7 linked regions of the Homo sapiens genome follow. The protein of the gene in region 6 purifies or fractionates together with the protein of the main gene of each other region. This does not show direct contact. Each region holds a gene or a part of one and is shown on either strand. Other genes may lie near its edges.

Evidence for each region.
Region 1: the proteins of FOXP4 (region 6) and PFKL purify together in Homo sapiens (affinity purification with mass spectrometry; one large-scale study listed by BioGRID and IntAct). This does not show direct contact.
Region 2: the proteins of FOXP4 (region 6) and MKI67 fractionate together in Homo sapiens (co-fractionation; one large-scale study listed by BioGRID). This does not show direct contact.
Region 3: the proteins of FOXP4 (region 6) and ZNF148 purify together in Homo sapiens (affinity purification with mass spectrometry, with the first as the bait; one study listed by BioGRID). This does not show direct contact.
Region 4: the proteins of FOXP4 (region 6) and SOX13 purify together in Homo sapiens (affinity purification with mass spectrometry, with the first as the bait; one study listed by BioGRID). This does not show direct contact.
Region 5: the proteins of FOXP4 (region 6) and PDPR fractionate together in Homo sapiens (co-fractionation; one large-scale study listed by BioGRID). This does not show direct contact.
Region 7: the proteins of FOXP4 (region 6) and BNC2 purify together in Homo sapiens (affinity purification with mass spectrometry, with the first as the bait; one study listed by BioGRID). This does not show direct contact.

What each region holds. Positions count from the first base shown.
Region 1 is NC_000021.9:44,298,920-44,302,852, forward strand, and holds the start of PFKL (ATP-dependent 6-phosphofructokinase, liver type), read left to right. Parts: upstream 1-1,133; 5' UTR 1,134-1,186; coding exon 1,187-1,271; intron 1,272-3,933. UniProt on the Homo sapiens protein: Catalyzes the phosphorylation of D-fructose 6-phosphate to fructose 1,6-bisphosphate by ATP, the first committing step of glycolysis.
Region 2 is NC_000010.11:128,112,924-128,116,423, reverse strand, and holds part of MKI67 (proliferation marker protein Ki-67), read left to right. Parts: intron 1-416; coding exon 417-1,496; intron 1,497-2,821; coding exon 2,822-2,997; intron 2,998-3,500. UniProt on the Homo sapiens protein: Protein that associates with the surface of mitotic chromosomes and acts both as a chromosome repellent during early mitosis and chromosome attractant during late mitosis.
Region 3 is NC_000003.12:125,365,326-125,368,825, reverse strand, and holds part of ZNF148 (zinc finger protein 148), read left to right. Parts: intron 1-3,500. UniProt on the Homo sapiens protein: Involved in transcriptional regulation. Represses the transcription of a number of genes including gastrin, stromelysin and enolase. Binds to the G-rich box in the enhancer region of these genes.
Region 4 is NC_000001.11:204,125,115-204,128,243, reverse strand, and holds the end of SOX13 (transcription factor SOX-13), read right to left. Parts: intron 2,387-3,129; coding exon 2,110-2,386; 3' UTR 501-2,109; downstream 1-500. UniProt on the Homo sapiens protein: Transcription factor that binds to DNA at the consensus sequence 5'-AACAAT-3'. Binds to the proximal promoter region of the myelin protein MPZ gene, and may thereby be involved in the differentiation of oligodendroglia in the developing spinal tube.
Region 5 is NC_000016.10:70,159,332-70,163,037, reverse strand, and holds the end of PDPR (pyruvate dehydrogenase phosphatase regulatory subunit, mitochondrial isoform 1 precursor), read right to left. Parts: 3' UTR 501-3,706; downstream 1-500. UniProt on the Homo sapiens protein: Decreases the sensitivity of PDP1 to magnesium ions, and this inhibition is reversed by the polyamine spermine.
Region 6 is NC_000006.12:41,594,881-41,598,380, reverse strand, and holds part of FOXP4 (forkhead box protein P4), read right to left. Parts: coding exon 3,390-3,500; intron 1,206-3,389; coding exon 1,139-1,205; intron 601-1,138; coding exon 431-600; intron 1-430. UniProt on the Homo sapiens protein: Transcriptional repressor that represses lung-specific expression.
Region 7 is NC_000009.12:16,416,171-16,419,670, reverse strand, and holds part of BNC2 (zinc finger protein basonuclin-2), read left to right. Parts: intron 1-21; coding exon 22-682; 3' UTR 683-3,500. UniProt on the Homo sapiens protein: Probable transcription factor specific for skin keratinocytes. May play a role in the differentiation of spermatozoa and oocytes. May also play an important role in early urinary-tract development.

The sequences.
Region 1 (3,933 bases), on a different chromosome or scaffold from region 6:
AGCTGGGATTACAGGCGCACACCACCATGCCCGGCTAATTTTTGTATTTTTAGTAGAGACGGGGTTTCACCATGTTGGCTGGGCTGGTCTCGAACTCCTGACCTCAGACCTCAGGTGATCCACCCCCCCCCCCCCCCCCCACCCCACGGGCCTCCCAAAGTTCTGGGATTATGGGCGTGAGCCACTGCGCCCAGCCTGTGTTTTTCTTTTATAGTAGCCATCCTAATGGGTATGAGGTGGTACCTCATTGTGGCTAAACCATGTACGTTTAAGAATTTACACACACACACACACACACACACACACACACGTGATGAAGCTGTAAGAAAAGGGAGAGAATAATGACCCAAAATGTCAGCACAAGGATGCCTCAGGGGTAGACACAGGTGTCTTCTTAGCGCCTTTTAGCCCACGCATATGTGCTTGCGCAGTCTCTCGGTGTGTTTTCTAACATTTCACAATTAAATAAGGAGTAGTTGATATTCACAGCCACCATTTCCACCGTATATGTAGAGAAAAATGCTCAAATCCTAGCGATCAGCCCGCTGAGCTTTCACAAACCGAACACACCGTGCGGTCACGAGGCGGCTCTCCCGAACACCGGCTCTGCACCCCCAGGGCCCGGGGAACCAAGACTTCCCCAAGGGCCCAGCAAAAGTGAGGGAGGAGGGGAGGAAAGGAGGGAGAGGGAGGGAGGAGTGCTGGCTGCTTTCCGCCAGCGCCTCGTTTGGGTTTCGCTCTGCTGAGGCCTGAAGGCGCCCTGAGGGCCCCTGGGGGGCAGGGAGGGGCGGTGGCTGCGGCCGACAGCAAGGAACCTCCGGAGAAGCGAAGCCGGGCCAGACGTGCCACCGGGGCCTCGGCGCTGGCGAAGGGGCGCGTGCGGCCGCACTGGGGCCAGCCCCGCCCTGGTCCCCGGCCACATCCTCGAGACCACCGGGGTGGAGGGGGGGGTCTCACTGCTCAGGGCCCGCGTGACATTGCACAGGTTTAGAAACGCACAGCGGGAAGGTGGCCCCGGCGGGCCGAGGGCGCAGGATCCCTGCTCCGTCCAGGGTCCGTCCTGCGAGGAGGCGCCGGGGGCGGGCCCGGGGCGGGGCGGGCGGAAGGCGCGCGCGGGGCGGGGCGGGGACGGCGACGCGGCGCAGGCGGCGGGAGTGCGAGCTGGGCCCGTGTTTCGGCCGCCGCCATGGCCGCGGTGGACCTGGAGAAGCTGCGGGCGTCGGGCGCGGGCAAGGCCATCGGCGTCCTGACCAGCGGCGGCGACGCGCAAGGTGGGCGGGGGTCCCGGCCGCGTCGCGGCGCAGGGGGTGGAGGGCGCCTCCGCCCTGGCCTCTCCGGAGCGCCCGCCGAGCCCCGGGACCCGGGTCTCGGGCCGGCCCGGCCTCCCGCCCCGGCCTCCCGCCCCGGCCTCCTGCCCCGGGTCTGTCCCCCGCTCTTCCCCGGCGCGGTCTCCGGCCTACGTGCGGCCGGCCACGTTCTCGGCCTCCGCCTGGGTCTTGGCGCCGCCCGCGCCCTGCCCCGGGGGTGTGTCCGACTCTGGGCCGCGGGGCAGGACCTCCCGAGGAGTCCCCGAGGCCACGCGAGCGGAGGGCGCCGGTCCCGCCACCCCCAGAGCCTGGCCCTTCCTGGTTCTGAAGCGACCCGGGGACCCGGTGCCTCCCGAGGGCCGGCGCCAGGCTGCGGGCTTCCGGGACCTCCTCCCGGCTGGGCGGGGGCGGACTCACTCCCGGACCGCGCCTCCTCCTCGGGGCCCTCGCGGCCGCCTTCCTTGTGGGTCTAGCTGGGGAAGAGGGCGGTGGGGAGATGGGCTGCCCGGGGCATTGAGCAAAGCCCAGTTGTCACCCTTTTCGCAGGGGTACTGGGGAGGCCTCAGGTGGTGGGGACTGGGACTTGGCAGAGCTGGGTGGGGGTCCGGCCTGAGGGCGTGGTGTCCTCGCACGCTCCCTCCCGGAGGCCTGGTCCTGCCCACTGCCGGCCTCCAGTGTCTCTGGCCTGACATGTCCAGTGTGGCACCTGTGGCACAGGACGCCACCTACCCTACCCCTCAGGAGGAGAGAGGAGAGGATTTAGGAGACCAGAAGTGAGGTGCTGGGTTGGGAAGGGGCCCAGCCAGCACCCCAAGGCTGTGCAGCGGGGTCTGGTCTGTCTTTTAGAGTTCAGAAAATGGTTGAGAAAATGCGGACACACACCCCCACCCAGCTTCAGGCACCTGACCCTCCTTTTCCCTATCTGGAAGCCAGGAAGAGGCGAGAAGGAAGCCGGCCTTGAGTGGGACCAAGCCAGGGAGGCAGGAGTGGCTCGTGGGTGTCACTGTCTGAACCCCGGCCTGCAGAGGGGGCTCCTTCAGACCTGGCTGAGCCAGGCCTGTGGTGGCTGCCCACCCGCCCTTTTCACAGCTGTGGCAAGAGCGGGAGCTGCTGCTTGTTGCCGGCTACTGGCAGTGTCCTGGAGCCAGTGTGGCTCCACAAGTCCTGTCCTGTGTGGCTCTGGGTCACGCCTTTCCTGTGGGCCAGGGGTCCGTGTTGTCGAGAGGGGAGGGCGTTGTTCAAGGATGTCTTTTTGCACAATAACCTGTGCAAAGGTAGCTAGAAGACTTGAAGCAGGCCGGGTGCGGTGGCTCACACCTGTAATTCCAGCACTTTGGGTGGCCTGGTGGGTTGTGGGCCCAGGTGGGAGAGGAGGCCCGTGGCCTTGGAGGGTGAACTCGGGAAGCTCCATCCCATGAGATTAGACAAGAAAGGCCCCGAGTCTGGAGGGCAGACAGGTTGCTGTGGGGCCAGCCCGCCTGCCCACCAGGGAGGCGCTTTCTTGGTGAGGCTGGTGAAGCCCCAAAGCCCACCTGTGGTTCCCTGAAACACAGAGGGTCCCCAACCAGCTTCCTTGTTTGCAAAGTGGGAGCATCAGCAGTGGAGGGTTGGGAAAGTTGAGAGCCTGGGGTGGCACGTGCCCCCCCCACCCCCTGCCACCCCATGCACAGACTAAACAGAGAAGGGGGGCTCGCTGGAGGTTGCTGAAGGGCCAGCCTGGCAGGTGGTTCTTGGGCCAGCGGGGAGGGGCACCCAGGGTGACAGGCGGTTCTGGATGCTGGTGGAGGATCTGGAGATGGGATGCCCCTCCTGGCCCTGTGGACAGGCCGGCTGGGTGGGCCTCCCATCTCTGTCTGAGCTGGGGGTTCCAACTGCTCAGCCTGGCCCCAGTGCCTGATATGGAGTGGGCAGCGCTTCCTGGCTGCAGCTGGGAGGGTGCCCACAGTGCACCTGCTGGCCGATCATGGCATCCCAGTTGGGCCTGTGCCTTCCTCTGCAAATGTCCTCCCTTCCCAAGCCCCGTGCAGCTGCAGCGTCTCTGTATGTGAGCTCCCATGCGTGGACAGGGAACAGGTGGTTTTCTGCAAGGGAGGAGGACTCCACACACTTCCCCAGTTCAGGGCTGGGGCTGATTCATGGAGGATGATCTGGGGCGAGTAGGATGGGAGGAACTGACATTCTGGGCAGAACCAGAGTCCTGTTTCATGAGTTCGGAAAAGCAGTCTGCAGGGCTCTCCCAGGCCACCACTGCTGCTGCCGTGTGGCTCCCCATGGTGGGTGCTCTGTTTTCCTTCTCGGGGCCCCACTGCCTTCCTAGAAAGGCTGACCCTGGCCGAGGGGAAGCCTGTGGCATAGTGTGCCCTTCTCTTTGCCCTCTATGTCAGCCGGGCAGCAGGAGAGTGGGGACTGGGAGGCACTTTCTGCCCCAATGCTGAAGTCTGCGTTTGTTGGATGTATGGAACAGCCAGCCTCACCATCCTGCCAGTGTTGCCCAGTCCTGGGACTTCTCGGGCCTTGATTTCCCCTTCTGTGAAAGGGGGTTGGGGACAAGACAGGCCACCTTGCAAGTTCCTTCCAGCCAGCCCACAAGTCCTGTCCTGTGTGGCTCTGGGTCACGCCTTTCCTG
Region 2 (3,500 bases), on a different chromosome or scaffold from region 6:
GAAGGGGCAACAAGAATGCAAGTGCTAAATGTCTAGCCTGTCAGAAATGGAGGAGGTGTCATTTAACATGTCAACGACAGACAGATGCCTAACTTTCCCTTGGTGACTGATGGTATGCTATGCTTAGGAGAGACTCTAGATATGAGAAAATTGCCTGTTCAGCTGTCAACTCAGTTCTCAGTAGTTAGATAGCATGTGCTATTTCATACTGGTTATTGGAGCTGATATGATTTATATATTTGTATCATAATACTAGTATCATAAGACTTGCAAGTTTTAGGCATTAAATAATTTGTAGGCCAAGTAAAAGCTAGCTTATAAGACAACCTGAAACAATTAAAATATTGAATTCCACAAATGTTAATCATTGAGAAAATGCTGAACTTCTGTTTCTTATTTCATAATTCATTGCCAAGATGAGAAAGCTCAAGATTCCAAGGCCTATTCAAAAATCACTGAAGGAAAAGTTTCAGGAAATCCTCAGGTACATATCAAGAATGTCAAAGAAGACAGTACCGCAGATGACTCAAAAGACAGTGTTGCTCAGGGAACAACTAATGTTCATTCCTCAGAACATGCTGGACGTAATGGCAGAAATGCAGCTGATCCCATTTCTGGGGATTTTAAAGAAATTTCCAGCGTTAAATTAGTGAGCCGTTATGGAGAATTGAAGTCTGTTCCCACTACACAATGTCTTGACAATAGCAAAAAAAATGAATCTCCCTTTTGGAAGCTTTATGAGTCAGTGAAGAAAGAGTTGGATGTAAAATCACAAAAAGAAAATGTCCTACAGTATTGTAGAAAATCTGGATTACAAACTGATTACGCAACAGAGAAAGAAAGTGCTGATGGTTTACAGGGGGAGACCCAACTGTTGGTCTCGCGTAAGTCAAGACCAAAATCTGGTGGGAGCGGCCACGCTGTGGCAGAGCCTGCTTCACCTGAACAAGAGCTTGACCAGAACAAGGGGAAGGGAAGAGACGTGGAGTCTGTTCAGACTCCCAGCAAGGCTGTGGGCGCCAGCTTTCCTCTCTATGAGCCGGCTAAAATGAAGACCCCTGTACAATATTCACAGCAACAAAATTCTCCACAAAAACATAAGAACAAAGACCTGTATACTACTGGTAGAAGAGAATCTGTGAATCTGGGTAAAAGTGAAGGCTTCAAGGCTGGTGATAAAACTCTTACTCCCAGGAAGCTTTCAACTAGAAATCGAACACCAGCTAAAGTTGAAGATGCAGCTGACTCTGCCACTAAGCCAGAAAATCTCTCTTCCAAAACCAGAGGAAGTATTCCTACAGATGTGGAAGTTCTGCCTACGGAAACTGAAATTCACAATGAGCCATTTTTAACTCTGTGGCTCACTCAAGTTGAGAGGAAGATCCAAAAGGATTCCCTCAGCAAGCCTGAGAAATTGGGCACTACAGCTGGACAGATGTGCTCTGGGTTACCTGGTCTTAGTTCAGTTGATATCAACAACTTTGGTGATTCCATTAGTAAGTTTATTTAATTGTAAATTTATTTTTCTAAAAGATGAACACCTTCTATGTAGCTGTGAGACCTTCATTCTTTCAGTAGTGATTAGCTTTGTGGAAGAGAATGTAAGCACATAAGGCACAGGGATAAGACAGACACGCACGCTGTTTTCGCTAATAGATGAATACTGAAGGCCTAGGTAATTGTAACAAGGAATGACAGAAGAGATGGAAGTTGTCAGGCAATCATGAAGCAGGGGTTATTGAAGGAGATAGGGTGGCCCCAAAAATATTTGATTCTCCTCCATCTATCACAAAATAGAAAAGAGAATAATCATAATTGCTTTTCACATGGAGTTTAATTCTGAACTACAATCAACTGTATCATATGAGTTTGGTCATGTGGAATAAATCACTGGTAATCATTAAACATAGCGGTAGTTCTCAGGTGTTGATACTCTGTTTTCAGAGTGTCCTACAAACAATTTGCTGTAAACACTGGACTGTACCCATGAGTCCATATGCCACATGAACACTTGATCCTTGGTGCAATAGCAGTGCCCGTGGCTAGGTTGTCTTTTTAGAGCTATGTCACACATGAGGAAACGCACAACCCAAGGCCAGTCAGGAAGTGGCAGAGGTAGGACCTTTATAGCAGGTGTGGTAGCTCCTCGGGAGCTTCCTACACTCCTAGGGACTGGCTATTAGAAGAAAAGTTGTCTGGGCCACAGACGCAGTATTCGTACTCCAGGCTGTGTTTCTGCAGGTGGCCTATAGCGGTGGGGCATGAGGCTGTCGATAAAATAAGGTTTGTAACATCAGTCTCAGTATTCCACCAAGCTTCCTAGTGGGGAAGCATCACTTAGGCAAGGGATTTACATTAACTGGTGGCTCAGGAAAATGTGTGGCCGGGACTGGGCTCCTGTGAATTGACTCAGAACCACCTGGAGGAGTTTTTACAGCTCATGCATTCTGGTCACTGGGTGGCTCAGGCTGAGACCCAAGTGCATGTCTTTAGAGAGTTCTCTGGCTGTCGTCCCCCTACTCTAAGGTGAAATCTGCTGCTGCAGACTCCTCCTTTCTATGTCCACACATAATGTTTCAATGTTTTAAAGAAAGCCTCTGTACTGTCCAGTGGCAACTTGACGTCTTAGTGGCCACTCCCGCAATCCTTTAGGAACTCTTAGTAGCTTAGCTTCACCAGGATTGCAAGAATAGAGGCGTGCTGTAGGTACTGTGTTTCGATGACTTTTCACTTGGTTTGTCTTTAATGCTAACGTGAAATAAATCACTAGTCTTGGTATGTTTTTTCATTGCTCTTTCCACATTTGTATCCGTTACTTTAGATGAGAGTGAGGGAATACCTTTGAAAAGAAGGCGTGTGTCCTTTGGTGGGCACCTAAGACCTGAACTATTTGATGAAAACTTGCCTCCTAATACGCCTCTCAAAAGGGGAGAAGCCCCAACCAAAAGAAAGTCTCTGGTAATGCACACTCCACCTGTCCTGAAGAAAATCATCAAGGTGAGTTGAACAAGCAGCATCCCATTCACGCCCAGTGGCTCACACACCGGGTACCTATTCCTTTCCAAATACTGACACAAGTAGAATTATGATGAAGACCTTTATTTATTTATTAAAGAAACAAGTTTTTAAAAAGACGAATGAAAGCTCATTGATGTGGGCACCAGCAAAGGAGCCCCTGGGTCCCTGACCGTGGTGCTGATGCGACCGAGTCGGGGGAGTCCTTGATGTTGTCCTTTTCGTGCAGAAGTTCCCAGACACCCACGCTTACAGCACTGCGTAATCACCTGCAGGCACCGTCAGAATAGCCAATTACAAAGATTCTGGATACATTACCACGTCGACCCATAAGGATTGTTTTATTTTCTTTTAGAGTTACAAGGCTATAGTTAAGGCATTTACCTGGTGTGAAGGAAAATCAATGGCACATCTTCCTTTTACACCTTCAGCTCTTTAGAATATTTGCTTGCCTGTTCCTTTGCTGTGTTGTCCTTCCTGGGTTT
Region 3 (3,500 bases), on a different chromosome or scaffold from region 6:
TACAGGCGTGCACCACCACTTCTGGCAATTTTTTGTATTTTTTAGTAGAGATGGGGTTTCGCCGTGTTGGCCAGGCTGGTGTCGAACTCCTGGCCTCAAGTGATCCACTCACCTTGGCCTCCCAAAGTGCTGTGATTTCAGGCATGAGTCATCACACCCGGCCAAGAGGCACACTTTTAAATAATACATGGTATAATCTTATTCTGAATGGTCTTATTGATGACAGATCTTTTTACTTTGAAATTTTGATTTTTAGAAATGCTGAAGGTTAGTCAATATCAAATAGAGTGAATGAAAAATAGTTTTGCCTTAAATCCAGTTAATCACAGAAACGGGAATAATTTTCTTGGTTGACTTATTAGCTGATTTTGAAAACACTCCCAAGGAGGAAGTTGGAAATATTTTGAACAGGGGTGATAGCTTCACATGTAGTTAGTTAGGCACTACATAAATGTTGGTTGAGTGCATCAGATGGTTGGATGGATGGAGTGAATAAATGAGTAAGTGGTAGCCTTCCAAAGTAACTTATTTTAAAGAGGACCATACTGATTTGAATGTGTAAATAAATTTTTTAAAAACTCATTTTTCTCAGATGAAATAAATTCTGAGTATGTTTGTTAATAATTTTATTACCTTGAGCAAGATAGTTTAAGTTCACAAATGAGTTTTACAGACAGTAAGTGCTGTAGGAGTTCAGGGAATGGAGAAATGAACATTGGCTAAGGTTTGGTGAAATGATTTAAGTGAACCATACTTATATTTGAAAAGATTCCTTAGGGATCTCAGAGAGGAACTAAATGACTCCAAATTCCTCTTGCAGCCCTAAAGTGAACCTAGAGTCTGGATCTATTTTTGTCTGAATGCTTTCTGCCTGTTTCATTTTAGCTACTCCTACTGGTTTGTTCCTTTCAGATTCACATTTGTTGGTAGATGTTGAGCCCCCTGAAACAACTATGGGGTCTGTTTTCCGTCTTCGTATAGTGTAACTTTTAGTTGTTCTTTTATGAGCCTGTACCCCACAAATTACTTGGCCTTCATGAGAGAAGAGCATGAGTCAACTTGGCCCTGTTATCCTGGCATTTTCCTGCATGCTTTTCTCAAAGCTGCTTTCTGAATTACGGAATAGAATAGACAGAACTGAGGGCATGTGTCCAGTAGACACGAGCTTGTTGAATGAATGAATGAATGAATGAATGAGATATTTGAGATAATTTAGGAGATCTGAATTGTCTATATGTTTTATGTTTCTTTTTCATTTATTCATAACCTGCCTTTTTCTACAAAGGACTTAACAGGGCTGCCAAACTATATGCACTAGCAATGAATTGAAATAATTCAATAAATCTGGTTAAAGAGATGATGAAGAAAAGAAAAATCTGTTTAAAGAATATAGATCAATGTGTATCGGTGTTAGAGAACTAGGAATAAGGTAGAAGATAAGCAGATGGGGAAGGAAAGGTGGTATCTGATAGAAAGCATGATTCTGAAGGAGGGAAAAGATTACTGAAATATGACAGGCTATCTTTGGAGGAAAGCATGAGAAGATGGAGGGTAAAGAGGATTATTTGAGACGGCTGTTTTGAGGAGGAAGATGGTAAGGCTATTTGAAGGATAAGAGTCAACAGAAGTTTGGAATATAGTAGAAGTTATTAAATTATGTTGATTTATAACAAGGTTTCAGAAAATGATGGGATGAGCTTTATTTAACAGATAATGCACATTTGTTATATGCAAAAGCATATAATGCTTTGCTGTCAGGAATAAAACCTTTGGGATTTATATTGTGGTAGGGCAGCTGGACTTGTGCACAAATACCTGTACTATAATCACAAATATATCTGTGAGTCACAAATATACCAAATATTACTGAATTTAAAAGGCAGAAAATGCATTTGATTAGGAGAAAACCTGAGACAGAACTTTAAAGGCATAAAAGTGGAATTTTAGCTAGTCTTTGAAGGGATTGATAAGATTTTTTTTTTTAAGTTTTGGATTGATAGGATTTTGATTGGCAAAGATTACTGAAAGAGAGCATTCCTGCCTGAGAGATTAGCGTAAGCAAAGGCTTGGAGGTGAGAAGCCCAGGAGATGTGGGGAATGGTGAGTTAGGTTTTAATTTTTAAACTATGACCTATAGTAAGAAATACATGTCACACTTCTATCTAATATATGCATGTATGAATGTTTGTGTGTGGGTAAAACAAGAAGTTTCATAATACAGTAACTGTCCTTAACAGTGGCAGGTGCAGTTGGATGTTATCTATTTTGTTTGACTAAAAAGAAAAAAAGCTGGCCAAGGGGGAAGAAAAAAAAGCTGATTGTCACTCATTAAACTGATTTCATGACCGACAAAATAATTAATCACAATCTATAGTTTGGAACGCAGAGAGTTCATGAATAAGGTATAATACAAGGTAGGAGAGTCAGTTGGGGTTGGGTTGAAAATGGATGGCCTTGAAAGCTAAGCTAAGTAGTTTGTATTTGATATGATGTAGTGTTGTGCTTGGTAAGCAAACAGAAGCTGGGTTTTAGTCTTGGCTCTTCTGTTTACCCACTGTATGATTATGGAGAATTATTTCCTTTCTGAGTTTCCATTTTCTCATAAAATTGATAATCATACTTTCCTGGCAAGGGTTATGGTGAGGATGTGAGAATTAAAGTATGTTAACATATGATTAAAGTATGTTAGCAGAAATCATTAGTGTATAGCTGTTGAACTTTTCTGAGTAGAGAATTGAGCCAAGGACCGTATATTAGATAGCTGGCAATAGCTATACCTTACTGGGTAGATTGCGGGTAATGTGGTGGTAGAGTAAGATTGTATGTGAAAAGACCAGTTAGAAAACAAAAAGACCAGTTAGGTGGCTACTGGAGATATTAAGAAGGGCTTGAATTAGTTTGATAGCAGTAGGATTAGAATATGGAAGTGGAATGCAGTTGGAGGTAGGGAAGAGGGGAAGATGACTAGAAATATGCTATTTATTTATTTATTATTGAATGAACGAACGTGAGGCTCTTGATCTGTTGCCCAGGCTGGAATGCAGTTGTGTGAACGCAGCAGCTCACTGCAGCCTCTACCTCGTGGATTCAAGTGATCCTCTTGCCTCAGCCTTCCGAGTACCTGGGACCACAGGCATGTACCACCACGCCTGGCTAATTTTCAATTTTTTTTGTAGAGATGTGGTCTCACCATGTTGCCTGGGCTGATCTCAAACTCTTGGGCTCCAGTGATCCCCTCCCTCAGCTTCCCAAAGTGTTGGGATTACAGGTGTGAGCCACCATGCCTGGCTGACTGGAAATTTAGAGTTGTAGAAATATTCAAATGGCAGCAGCTGAAATTGGATTATATTTTTGGGTAGTTTAGTGCAGTACATTAGAGTATAATTTTAGTTTCTTTCATGTAGTAGGTGCTCAATTATTTGTTGAATGATAGAAACTAAATACGTGGACTGTGGGATGAATTGTGAGTAGAAGCAGTGATGGGTGGATGTGAGAAGGAG
Region 4 (3,129 bases), on a different chromosome or scaffold from region 6:
GGGCCTCAGATGGGCTTCAGGGTAAACCTTTGTGGGCCCTTTTCTAAGAAAAGGATCCACAGCTTTCATTAGAGTCTCAAAGGGCTACTTCTCTGAATGGTAAGAACCAGGTATAAGGTTTAATCTTGTTGTCAGATGAGGACAATGAGGCCCCAAAGGAGAGACCTGGCTCCCACTCCCCAACCCCAGCCATGTGGCCAGTTCTAGAGAGACCCCGAGCTTCATGACTCCTATTACAGTGCTCTTACTACTGCCTTCTTTCTTAGGATCCGGGTGGCCTCACCTCGTCAAGGTAGGGGCATTCAGCGTGGGCTCTGTGGAGGGCATGTGTCACTCACAAGCTTGGCCTGGGATTCCCTTGCATTAAGCCAATTCCTCTGAGGCCCCAGGCCTGAAGCTCCTGCAGGCTGCCACCAGGGGACAGTGGTGCCCAGGCTGGTGGCATATTTGGGAATTCTGGACTTAGGCCAGCCTCCCTCCTCCCCTGCACAAGGGCCAGATTCTGAAATGATCTGTCTTTATTATGTCATCAGAAAACAAAAAAATCCCCCGAGTGTAAACAGGAGAAATGTGCTGGTTAAGTTACTCATCATTATCTTATTATTAACAAAATAAAGCACTATCTATGTTTACAGTCATAAAAAAAGAAACAGCCTGGAGAGAAGTGGGGGCTTTGAGGATGGAGAGAAGACGGGGGCAGACACAGACTCCACATCTGGCCCTGTGGGATTTGGGGTTCCCATACTGATCCAAGGGCTATTTAGATCTTCAGAGTTAGGTGACAATGGGATTTGATTTCCTTAGGGAACAAACTTTGTGAAACTGATCAGAGGCTGAGATCCAGTCCCTAGTATAGAGTGGGGGAGGGGAGGGCAGGCAGGTGAGGGGCAGGGCTGGGTGGGAGAGGCTGAAGCCCAGGAGTCTTCTCAACCTCTTCCAAGAATGGGGACCCCCCCGACCCTGTGCTCATGAGGGAGGAATAAAGACCAGCTGCCATGGACAGCCCCTCTCCAGGGCCTCTGACGCTGGCAGGAAGGGGAGCACCATCAATCCTCCTGTCCCAACTCCCTCGTGGGATCAGGTTGGGACCAGGGGCGGGGGCACCAGGACAAAGCCCCTTGGAGGCCGAGGCACATTCCCATGCTGATCAGAGCTAAAAATGGCTCCGTGGGAACCGACTGGCAGAGCCAGGGAGGGAGTGAAGGGGAGGGCAGGAGGAGGTCAGGAAGGCTGATGAGCCCAGGGCAGACCAGGGGCCTACATAGACCCAGAGAATCCAGAGGGCACAGGGGGCAAAGGACAGACACCAAGAAAGAGAGAAATAGAGGGCCTTGCAGAGAGACGAGGACAGAGAGAGACAGAAATGCACACAAGGACACACAGAACCTGAGACACCCAGACTGACAAAGAGGTAGCAATTTGGGGACAAAGAGAAGCACAGAAAGAGGCCCCCAGAGAAGCAGGAGTGGCATCGAGAGACACACCCACAGGAACTCAGCAACAGTGCCTGGCACGTAGTGGGCACTCAATAAATATCTTGTGCAGTGAATGAACAGATGAAACACACACACGTGCACGCGCACACATACAGCAGCCAGAGGCACAATAGGCTTGGCAGAGATGAAAACAGCAAGGGACAGCCAGACCCTTTTGCACAAAGTACAAAGCGATCCTGGTGATAGACGAGCAGTCTGGGGGAGTGTGGGAGGGGTGTTGGTCCCACAGTGGCTGGTCCAGCCAGGACAAGAATGGAAACAAAGCATGTGACCCCAGGGAGACAGGTCGGTAGATGCCATACCCCAGGTGGATAGACACCTGCAGGAGAGGAGAGTCATACAGTGTCCCCTGGCCATAAGCCCTAAAGGCTGAGGTGCTCAGCCTGCTCAGCCCATGGCCATACTGCAGTTCCTGCCCACCCAGGCCAACAGCTCCTCAGGAAGGGAGGGCGCCTCTCCCCTCATGAATGTATCTGCAAGTGCACAGCTTTGCCCATCTCTGGGGCACGAACAAGTCCAAGTACCAACATAGTCTTAGGTTGGCTGGCTGTGCCCATCGAGTTGGGACAAGGTCTTCCCCAGAGGAGAAGGGGCCAGGCCCACCCAGCCGGGATCAGTCTGTGAGCACCACCAACTCCCCATCGCTCTTCTCTTCGCCCTCCGAGTCCTCGTCCTCGCTGTACCGGTACATCTCGCCATCAGCCACCGAGTGCCTGTCATCTGTGCCCTCACCCTCCTCTCTGAGGCTGCAGGTGTTGACGATCACAGGCATGTTGGGGTCCAGGCTACGAGGGACATAGTGCTCCACCAGTGGCTGTGCCAGCGGCATGCCTGCTGCCCGAGGGTACAGGACATCTGAGGAGCTCATCTGCACCTGGCCAGCCTGCGGGCTGTGGGGCAGAGAAGGGGAACGGTGATGGATGCACACTTGATTCAACCCCAAACCCATCTCCCCTCCAGGCCTCCTCAGAGCATGCACTCCCACTCCACACACTCTTGGCTGTGACTTATATACCCTGCCCCCAGCCTGCTTTCTGATGGCCAAATTCACTGGCACCTACGACCCTGCAGATGACCTGCAGACCTAGGGCCATAGATGTGTTCAACAGATAATATTCTTGGAGGATCATGTGTGAATCCAGTTTTTAGAACTTGTATATTTTATGTTTTGTTTACTTATATTTAGAGACAGGGTCATGCTCTGTCACCCATGCTGGAGAACAGTGGTACAATCACAGCTGACTGCAGCGTCAGCCTCCCAGGCTCAAGTGATCCTCCTGAGCCTGCCTCAGCCTCCTGAGTAGCTGGGACTACAGGTGTGAACCACCACACCTGGCTAATTTTATTTAAAGATGAGGTTTCACTATGTTGCCCAGGCTGGTCTCAAACTCCTGAGCTCAAGGGATCCTCCTGCCTCAGCCTCCCAAAGTGTTGGCATTACAGGCGTGTGTCACTATACCAGGCAGAAATTGTATATTTTAAATGCCCTGGGAGATGTCCTGTTTAAAGGAATAGACTAGGGTGCTTGCTTTAGTCAAGTCAGGAACCTTTCTGTGTGATGAATACTTTGATTTCTAGCACCTCTGAATTTCTATTGAGTTTATCGGCCGTGGGATCTACAGGCACTTTCTCC
Region 5 (3,706 bases), on a different chromosome or scaffold from region 6:
TGGAGGTTGCAGTAAGCCAAGATCACACCACTGTACTCCAGCCTGGGCAAAAGAGCAAGACTCTGCCTCAAAAAAAAAAATTAGTGAACAGGTCAAGTCCAGGGACCAACTTGTGGATGGAAGCTGGTGTAGAAAAAGAGCACTGGTTGTTTCTCTCAGGGTTGTTTCCACAGGGTGAGAACACGACCCCCCTTGCTTTCCACACAAACCTGAGTGCACACGTGCCCGTGTGGAACATCAGGTGGCAGGTTCCTCCTGAGGTCAGCTGTAGGCAGAAGGCCGGTCGGAATTTCAGGAGGCGGGAAGCTTTTACCCCCAGCCACTCCAGCGCTGCAGGGAGGGTAAGATAAACACCTACATCTTCTCTACCCCCGTCCCCAAATCCTCCCTCACACTGGTACACACAGGGAGGTACACACTCTCCTCTGCACGCTGTTTATGCTTTGTGGTGGCAAACACATTTAAGTCACTACAGATGAAGAACATTTCACAAGCAGCCGTGCAAGAGTAGTTAAAATGTGTTTATTCATTTACAAACCCAGTAACATGAGAAGAAACTCAGTGGAAACCTTGCTTGGTGGAGACAGTGCACAGTGTTAGTGCCACATTCACAGGGGCAGAAATGCTCGGTCACCCTGTGCACCCAAAGTCACCCAGGATCTCTAGAAAAGATCCCACTTACTGAAGTGCCTCGGATGTCTTCAGGGCCAGATTGTAACTACACAGGAACAGGGAAGGGCTAAGCTGAACTGCAAATTGACAAACACAAACGATGAGTCACAGGACTCTACAGTAGTTACAATGGCATTTTTATATGTCCCAAGTGTTGACTGGAGAGTAAAGTGTTAACTGAGCTGCTAGAACACCCTTCACTGAAAGAGCTTTCTACCCCACGCCCATTGTTCCGAAGAAGGAGAGGCTATGTGGGGCGGATGGGAACCCACACACCGAGATGAACTTTTCTCTTTCTTCCAATCTGCACCCACCATCTGACATTCTGGAGTGTAAGGCACTAGAACCTGGCTTAGAGAATAGTGGGGCTCTAAGCTCCAGTTCTTGGTGTGCAAAGGAAATTCTGACATACATCTTTTGAAAGAGATGCTAAAAAACCCTCCCTATCTCCTGTAATTTCTGTCTTTGACAGACAGGAAAATAAGAAGGCAGAAGATGGTCTGCAAAGGATAAAAACAGGTGCATCTAAGAATGAGAAAAATGGCTCATGAAGAAATGTGTAACTCTCCAAGAGATGCAGACACTCTGCTCAGAGAAGTCAAGAACCATAAACAACTCTTCATGTTTCATGGACAAAGGGAAGGCAAAGGCATACAAAAATACTCAGTTGTCTTGAAAAGTGTACTGGTAGTGATCAGGGCTACAAAGGCGAGCCCTGTACTGACAATGGAGGAGCCTTACAACTCAGCACCTTAAATTGTTGGCCTGAAGTGGTGGCGGGGAGGGAGGCGCTGACGGAGAGACCCATGGCTCACCACTTATTGCGTGTACACAAGGCCTGGGGCAAGCCTCACAAGTCTACCATTTCTTCCACTCAACTGTGCTTCTCCTGAATCCATGTGCCTGAAATGACATATGCAAGGTGAACATTCTTTATACTGTGTTAATACTGCTTATATCAATGTTCGTGAGGGGTGTGTGGGGGATGGGGTGCAGCAGGAAAATTAGAATGGCAGGAGGTTCTTATTTATTATTAAGCACTGTTGACCAAACCTCTATCTTAGATTTTTTTTTTTTTTTTTTTGAGACAAGAGTCTCACTCTGTTACCCAGGCTGGAGTGCAGTGGTGCAATCTCAGCTCACTGCAACCTCTGCCTCCTGGGTTCAAGCAATTCTCCCACCTCACTGGGCCTCCCAAAGTGCTGGGATTACAGGAGTAAGCGACCACGCCCGGCCAACCAAACCTCTATCTTAGATGTTAAAGAAGACCCTTATTGACTACACTGGCCAAGAAGCAACAGAGATATAAAGCTGAATCTTGTAGCTAACCCCTGAAAGCAAGCCAACGCAAATTCCTCCGCCAGGCCAGTCTTCTAGTGCCAATATGGAGACTGTGGGCCACAGAAGATTCCCTTCTATTTCAGGTTCTCAAAAAGTGGTGTAGACTCAGGCAAATGCCAGGAAATGTGTCCATATGCCAGAGGAGACACAGAGCCAGAAATGAAGGCTATGGGTCCTGTCTTCAGTGAAACACTGAACGCTCTCGGAAAGCTCCCATCATTCTTGCATCGCTACTGCCACCAAGACGGTGGCAAGGGAGGAGGCTAACTTTCAAATGCATGCAACGGCAGGTAATATACTGTGGAAGCTGGAGGTTTACTTTTCATGTTTTAGTTACTTTCTTGCAAACAGCAGTCCAGGAAAGCAAGCAAGCAGGTAAAACTCCGGGTGTGCATGAGGAGATGATCCAAGGCCAGTGGGCCTCCCAGTGAGAACCAAACAGGAGTGGCCAGGCTCCACTCCTGGGGCCAGAGTGAAACCGGGGTTTAATCACTGGGCTATGTGGTCTCTGTGTCTCTGGCCTGAATGAGATCTCTTCAATGTCGGGGGACAGGGATCCCTGGAAGAGCGTGAAAAATACAGTGGTCACTGTGCAGTTCTCTCTGCTGGAGCCTGTCCTGCCATCATACAAGGTGCTGTGACAGCAATGCAAGGTGAAAGGAGATCAAATGGCCCAGCTCAGCAGTTAGTGTTTGTCCCTTTTTGCTCTTCAGAGTTCCTGAATGAGAGCTTTTCTGGCTTCAGTACCAATGATCACAGAAGGAACATCTTCCTGATGCAAGCTTAGATGGAAGTCAATGACCCTGGCAGTGCTAAGAACAGAAGTCACACGTGGCCTGACGATGAAGGGGAGGTAATTAAAGACATTTCAAGGGAGGGGAAGGCCCACGGAAAACTGGCAACCCTGGGTCTCCGTTTGAGGCCAATATACTTTGTGTTCCTAGGTTCAGATGGCATACACCGACAAGAGAAGGCAGAGACCATCCTTCGTGGTGAGCACAAAATGCTATGACAGGTAATTGCAGAGAGAAAAAAGCACCCAACTCTGTAAAGCCAAGTCCAGTCACCCATTCACAAGAGTCCAAAATCCTTCAAATCTCTAGGGACAGAAGACAAACGTGCTGCCCAGAATGAGCTGAGACACAAGGCAAACCCTTGGAAATGACACATGGATGAGGAGGCTGTGGTTGTCCCTCCTTATTCCTGCTGGATTTGCAGCCACGGCTCTGGATCTGGGGCATCTACTGGCCTCCCCTGTTCACTCAAGAGGCCACTGCCTCTCAGGAGTCCAGAATGCTCTGATATCTGACACCGGTGGTCAGGAAGTTATGCTGCCCTCTCCTCTTGAACAGCTAAGATGCTTGGACACTAGACAGAGGCAAAGCAGTTATGCCAGAAGCAGGGGAGAGTCATTCACTGTCAGATCTGTCTGTTCAAAGAGCTCACATTAGACCAATCACAGAAAACCACCAGACTCACACAGCTTGTATTTGAATGAACCAGGAGAGACTTCAAGGATCAACTCTAAAGTGCTAGAAGAGAAATCTGTGTTTGGGGCACTGAATAAACAAGTGATGTCCTAGAAGATCAACACCCCATCAGTCTTAGGAGTATGACCCTATTCATGGACAAGGGGTTTCAATGGACAGCCTGAGTGCTCAGCCCCCCATCCTCCTCTCCTAGCAAGACAAGC
Region 6 (3,500 bases):
GCTGGGCATGGTGGCAGGCACCTATAATTCCAGCTACTTGGGAGGCTGAGGCAGGAGAATCACTTGAACCCAGGAGGCAGAGGTTGCAGTGAGCCAAGATCTTGCCATTACACTCCAGCCTGGGTGACAGAGCGAGACTCCGTCTTAAAAAAAAAAAAAAAAAAGAGAAGAGAGGAGGAGGAAAAATAAGAAAGGGGGAAAATGGGGAGGAGAAGGTGGGAAGGTGGGGAGGTGGGGAGAGGGGATAAGAACAGGCAGGTGGGACAAGGGAGGGCTGAGAGGGCTGAGGGAAGGAAGAGAGAAGCCACTTGTCCTGGGGAGAGGCGTGGTGGGGGTGGGATGGGGAACCCCACCCAGGGTGGGGGATGACGCCTCCTCCCTGGTGGTTGAGGGGTGCTGGGGTGGGTGGGGGTCCGTGCTGTGTGCTCACCTGTACTGGGGCGGGGAGAGGCGAGGAGGGCTGCTGCTGCCGTTGCTGGGCAGCGGCTCCACGGGGGCACCCACGTCATCGTGGCTGAGGGGCAGCAGGCTGCTGGCGGAGCCAGGGTTCAGCATGCCAGGGCTGTTGAGGAGGGGGAAGCTGCTCTCGGCCAGGGCGGCCTGCAGGGGCACAGGGTTGGGCCTCGTCAGTGGCTCCACAGGATGGGGCACACTCAGTCAAGTGCTGTGCCTTCCCCGCCCACTAGAGAGCTGCCTGTGTGTCTGCCTACTGGCCCCACGGGCGGATCTGTCTGGGCAACCCCCAAGCCCCAACTCAGCCTTTGAATGTAGCACCCCTCCCCCATGGCTGGAACTCTGACCCCCCGACCTCCTACCTCCTAGCTTTCCTGGAACCTGGGCCTGGCTTATCCCCTCTCCCAGGGAACAGAGAACCCCCAGACTGACAAACCAGGAAAGGGGATGCTATAGGTATGCCATCCTCCCAGCTGCCTGCCTTGTCTGAACCCAGCCTTGAAAGCAGAGGTGGAGGCTGGCCCCGAGTTGGGGTGGGGCAGAGAGGTGGGGTCTCGGAGAGTTTGGGTCTTCACCCTCCTTCCCTCCTCTGGTGAGTCCTCTGCAGGGGAGGATGGGGGTCTCTTGTATGAGAAAGCAAGGGGGCGGGAGGTAGAGGTGAGTGGGTGGGCTCTGGGCAGGTCACCTGGTAGCTGGCATTAAGTGCTCCATAGCTGAGGCCAGAGATCATGTTCTTCACCAGGGTGGGGCTCCTGGAGGACAGAGAAGGCCATCTTTGGCTCACTCATTCACTTAGCTCTTCATTCGCATCTCTTTACTCTCACTAAGTAACGGCCTGTGCTGGGAATGGGTCCCATTCCCTATTCCGGGAGGCCAGGGCGGATCAGCCGCTGTCTTGGAGCTGTGTGTGTACTTGGTCTGATTCGGTCTTCACGCTCAACTGGCCCTGCAGGAGCAGCCCCTTCACAGGTGGGTGCGATGGGCTTGGTTCAGGGACCTGTCCAGGTCTCGGAGCTGGGAAGTGGGAACTGGCATCCCCCCAGTGTCTGCCTTCACAGCATGCTGCCCCCCCACCCGTTTTCTCTCCGGTCTAGATTTTCCAATGTTTGGCAAGGTCTAATCTATAGTCTCAGTAGTTACACACCTGGTCTGCCCACACTGTCTTGCCATCCTAGATTTTGGGACATGTCAGACATATGCTCAGCCTGTCCCACATGGAGGCTTCTGTATGGAAGCCTCCATACAGAAGGCTTCTCTGCACGGGAAGGTGTTCGGGAGTTGGGACAGGAAAAGCAGTGGCTGGGGGCTGTCCCTCTTCCAGTGATGACACCATCACAGAGCTCTCACAGAGCTTAAGGAAACAGCCAAAGGTCACCAAACTGGTGAGAAGCAGAGGTGCAAGCGCAGCCAGGCCTGGAGACTGGCCCCTAGGCATTCACCAGGGGATGGCTTCCCTCCATTCTCCAGGCTGCACACTGCCTGGGGTGCAAAGGCTCCTGCCTGGTAAGCAGGCATCTTTGAGGGGAGCAGACACCCCACACCTCAGAGACATCCATCTAACTTGCTCTCCTCTCCTTACCCAGGGGCTCTGGCCCAAGGGGCACAGCAAGCAGGTGGCTGGGGTGGGGCTGTTTGAGGTCGGGAGAAGGCCACTGCTGCTACGTGGAAGCCAAAGGGAGGTCCTGACCCTGTCCCAGGCTCCTCAGTTTCTGTTTAAACTGCCAGGTGGAGGCTAGGTGCGGTAGCTCACGCCTGTAATCCCAGCATTTTGGGAGGCCGATGCGGGCAGATCACCTGAGGTCAGGAGTTCGAGATCAGCCTGGTCAACAGGGTGAAACCCCGTCTCTACCAAAAGTAAAATAATTAGCTGGGTGTGGTGGTGGGCGCCTGTAATTTCAGCTTCTCGGGAGGCTAAGGCAGGAGAATCGCTTGAACCCACAAGGTGGAGGTTGCAGTGAGCCAAAATCGTGCCACTGCACTCCAGCCTGGGCAACAGAGCAAGACTCTGTCTCAAAAAAATAATAGGCCAGGTGCGCTGGTGCACGCCTATAATCCTAGCACTTTGGGAGGCCAAGGCAGGTGGATCACCTGAAGTTGGGAATTCGAGACCAGCCTGACCAACGTGGTGAAACCACATTTCTACTAAATACAAAAAAAATTAGCCGGGCGTGGTCGTGGGCACCTGTAATTCTAGCTACCCGAAAGGCTGGGGCAGGAGAATTGCTTGAACCCGGGAAGTGGAGGTTCCAGTGAGCTGAGATCGTGCCATTGCACTCTAGCCTGGGCAACAAGAACAAAACTCCTTCTCAAAAAAAATAAATGAATAAAATAATAAAATTAAAAAAATAATAAATAAATAAGTAAATAAATAAAATGCCAGGTGGTGAAGTGAAGCTGAGCACAAAAGACCAGGAGGGCAGAGACCTGGTCCTGGAACCAGCTCTGCCACAAATCTGCTCTGGGGCCTCCTGCCAGCCCCTGGCCCTCACTGGCTCTCCTCTGCCGTAAGATGAATTGGTGGGGTCGCGGGACCTCAGAGGTCTAGTCATCCTGATGAGCTGAGAGAGCGGGTGCCCTGGGGGTGGCAGCCCCTCACCCATGGCCCGTTGGCTGGCATCTGCCTGTGTGCCAGCTCTGGCCAGGGCTACTTGGGGCCCCTGTCTCTCTTTGCTACCAGGCCTCCTTCTTGGCCCCTTCCCTCAGTCAGAGTGAGGACAGAAGAGGACATAAATGTCTGCCTTCTGATTATCCATCACTTCCGGATTCCAGCCCCCTGTCCCCAAGCACTAGTCTCCTCTGCTCCTTTCTCCCCACACCCCTTCCCCCAGCCAGGAAGGATCTGGTGCACATGTGTACCCTGGAGAGGTAGGGGGTGGGGGTGAGTTGGCTCCTGCCCCCTGGGCAGGTACAGCCCATCCAGCTCTGGACCCACATACCCTGTCATCTTTGGCGGTCTCCGCTTCTGATACTCCCGCTCGTCCACAGTCCACACGGCACCCTTGACGTTCTCCACGCGGACGAAGCACTTGTGCAGGCTGAGGTTGTGG
Region 7 (3,500 bases), on a different chromosome or scaffold from region 6:
CCTTCCCTCTTGTTTTCCTAGACACAGTGCCAACATAAACCTACATCGTAAACTGTTGACCAAAGAACTCGATGACATGGGCCTGGACTCGTCGCAGCCCTCCCTTAGCAAGGACCTCCGCGATGAATTTTTGGTGAAGATATATGGTGCCCAGCACCCCATGGGGCTCGATGTCAGGGAAGACGCCTCCTCTCCCGCAGGGACTGAAGACTCCCACCTGAACGGGTATGGGAGAGGCATGGCAGAGGACTACATGGTCCTTGACTTGAGCACCACCTCCAGCCTCCAGTCCAGCAGCAGTATCCATTCCTCCAGAGAATCCGACGCAGGCAGCGATGAGGGGATTCTTCTCGATGACATTGACGGGGCGAGTGACAGTGGGGAGTCGGCACACAAGGCCGAGGCCCCTGCCCTCCCTGGCAGCCTAGGGGCTGAAGTTTCAGGATCTCTTATGTTCAGCAGCTTGTCTGGGAGCAATGGTGGGATCATGTGCAACATTTGCCACAAAATGTACAGCAACAAGGGGACCCTGAGAGTGCACTACAAAACTGTGCATTTGAGAGAAATGCACAAGTGCAAAGTCCCAGGTTGCAATATGATGTTTTCCTCTGTACGAAGCCGAAATCGGCACAGTCAGAACCCTAATCTCCACAAAAACATTCCCTTCACTTCAGTAGATTAGTCTCAGAATGGACACTACAAATGCCAGCTCTCACCAGATGGCCTACGTGTTTGAACTGCCATAGTCAGTGTGCGCTTATGTACTTGGGGTGTGTGTGTGTGTGTGTGTGTGTGTGCATTTATGTATGCTCTGTGGCTACATATACACACACGTATTTCCTTGAGATAAACAAGATAAACACTAGGTGCTTTTGAATTTTTTTCACTTCCCTTTATAGTTTTGGGAAAGGAGTGGGATCTTTGATTTCAGGGTGAAAACAGAGTACCCCTTTAAACACACACACACACACATGCACATACACACACACACACACACACACACACAGTGTGCAACTAGCCCCAGTTTTGACAGAATAATTCTTGGTCTTCCCCAAAGAGACAATTTGTTGTACCCATGACTGTTGCCTGCAAAAATAAAAGGGAAAAAAAAGAAAAAAGAAACAAAAAGGAACTTCTTATAGTTGTCTTTTGTGAACTTTAAGGTTTTGAAAGAATCTTCAATTAAAGCATGGCAGATTCACCTGTAAATATTTAGCCTTGAGGGGCCATTGATGTAAAACAATTGTATTGATGGTTGTTTAACTTTTTTGTTTAATTTTTACAGTTACATCCAGCTGTTAGATATGCAGGAAAAGATAGTTTGCTGGCTAGCTCTATTCATTTATGTTAGCATTAATGCACATTTTTAAAAAAAGAAAAAAACATGGTCTTGTTTTTACTACCTGTTAGATATAGTGCTAAAGAGGTGCTGGCATGCTTTACAGCACAGATCTGATTTTTTAAAATGTCCTGTACTAGTACATAAATCCCGTCATGCACTTTTTTTCATACACTACAAGGGGATGTGTAATAACCATGCTTCTTTTTTATCCTTAAACTATTGCCATACTTCAGTAAGTGTCTTTTTTAAAAAAAATTCACTTGTATAAAAATGGTCTGGTCAGTATAGGGCACAAATGCCAAACAAAGTATTAGTGTTAACACAAAACTGCCAACTTTGCACAAGTTTCCAGAAAAGAAAATACAATTAGTCACTCAACATAACCACAGGCCAATTTGTTGGCCACCAGAAAACCGCTTTTTAAAAAAACACTTGGTGATTCTTTCAAGTGCCGAATGTTATTAGAATCAACATTGCATCCTTCTTGCTTATACGTTAAGTTACATAAAAGGAAAACAAAATTATGTGGTGTGAAACAGCCAAGGCATTTATTCTTCAGAGGCAGGATAATATTTCAGGATACAAAAGCCCAAATTACCCGCTACGGAACAAAGATGAATACAGTAAAAGAGTCGAACACTCATTTCCAAGGCCCTAACCCTTATCCTTTAAAAAGAAATCCTCTGAACTGGGTCGGTCTGTTGTATGGCTGTCTAATTTGTTGCAAATTCTGCAGTCGTACTATAATTCAGGCCTGTTTGGTAGACAAAATCAAAAGGCATTTAACAGCAGCAGTACTTGGAAGCTTTGAAAACATGTGCTAAACTTGAATGGAGCAACACTCCTTTCTGAAAAGCCAGAAGAAGGGGGTTTTAAAGCAGGATCTCTCAATGTTCAGTGTTTTGTGTTTCCCCACACGATTTGTCAGAGAGAAATGAAAGCAAGCCTGAAACCAAGCAATTGAGAGTGAGAAAGAGGAGAGAGACTATTCTCCAAACCTTTTTTGTTTTGTTTTGTTTCCGATGTTTACACATGTTGCCTGAGCTGGTTAACCACATCGGCAGCCTCAGCTACCACAACATACTGACTAAATGATGATATTTACTCAAGTTCAGTCTGCAGCCAAAACCATTAGGGTGTGCATTGCAGACTGTTTTGTTGTCTTTTTTTTTTCTTTTTTCCTTTTTTTTTAAGTGGAGGGGAAAAGAAGAGATAAACAAGGAATATTTTGTCAAACAGTACACAATAATTTAAAGAGAATGTATTTCTTTTTTGCATTTAATGGCCTCAGACATTTCTTTCATCAGTCTAAAAGTTAGAAATATCCCTTTATTTTAACTTTTATGTCGTTTCCATTTTTCATGTTTTTGTAATTATTTTTTCTATGTTCACATCAGCATTCACTTCCGTTAAATTTGCCAAAGGAAACTGTTAATATGTTTCTGTTGTTATTATTCCTGTAGGATTTATTGTACCTCACAGTATTTATTGTTTCCCAAAATAAGCATCATTAGTTGGGGATTCAGTATTTTTGTTGTGAAAATTTCAGAAACAATAGATTCTTAAAGATAAGCTAGCTATGTCTAGGAGCTTTATCTTTTCACCTCCTTCAGAGGATGCTATGGGGTCCATTTTAATTCTTCATTTGTTCTACGGGGAGGAAAGACCAAAAGTATTTGCAGTACAAAAGAAACTATATCAAACACTATGTTAAATGACAAGTGTTTATGGTAAAAAGCTGAGGAATTAGTAATAATCGTTTTTGTTTTCTTGTACTTTGAATTCCCCAAAGTCTTAATTGCTTTATTTTGGTGTTGTGTTAAATTGAACAGACAGATGTTTTCCTTTGTTTTATACCATATAAGACTCTGTACAGTATGTTTGTGAAAGATTGAACTAGAATAATGAAAGTTTGTTTGCAAACATTTTGGTCCTCTCAGCGTTCTCTGTGTTGTGCTGTTGCCCCATTACCAAATGGTTAGATTCAAAAAGGGTGGGAAAAGATTTTTAATATCCCAACAAAACATTATAGAAACTCTGGCTTTTGCAGTGTGCATAGACTACATGTAGTTTTATGAAAATAAATACACATTTTTATTTCAGCAACTTTGAAAAGTTACACTCAGTTGAGTTACTAGAACTCATCTTGTACAACAGC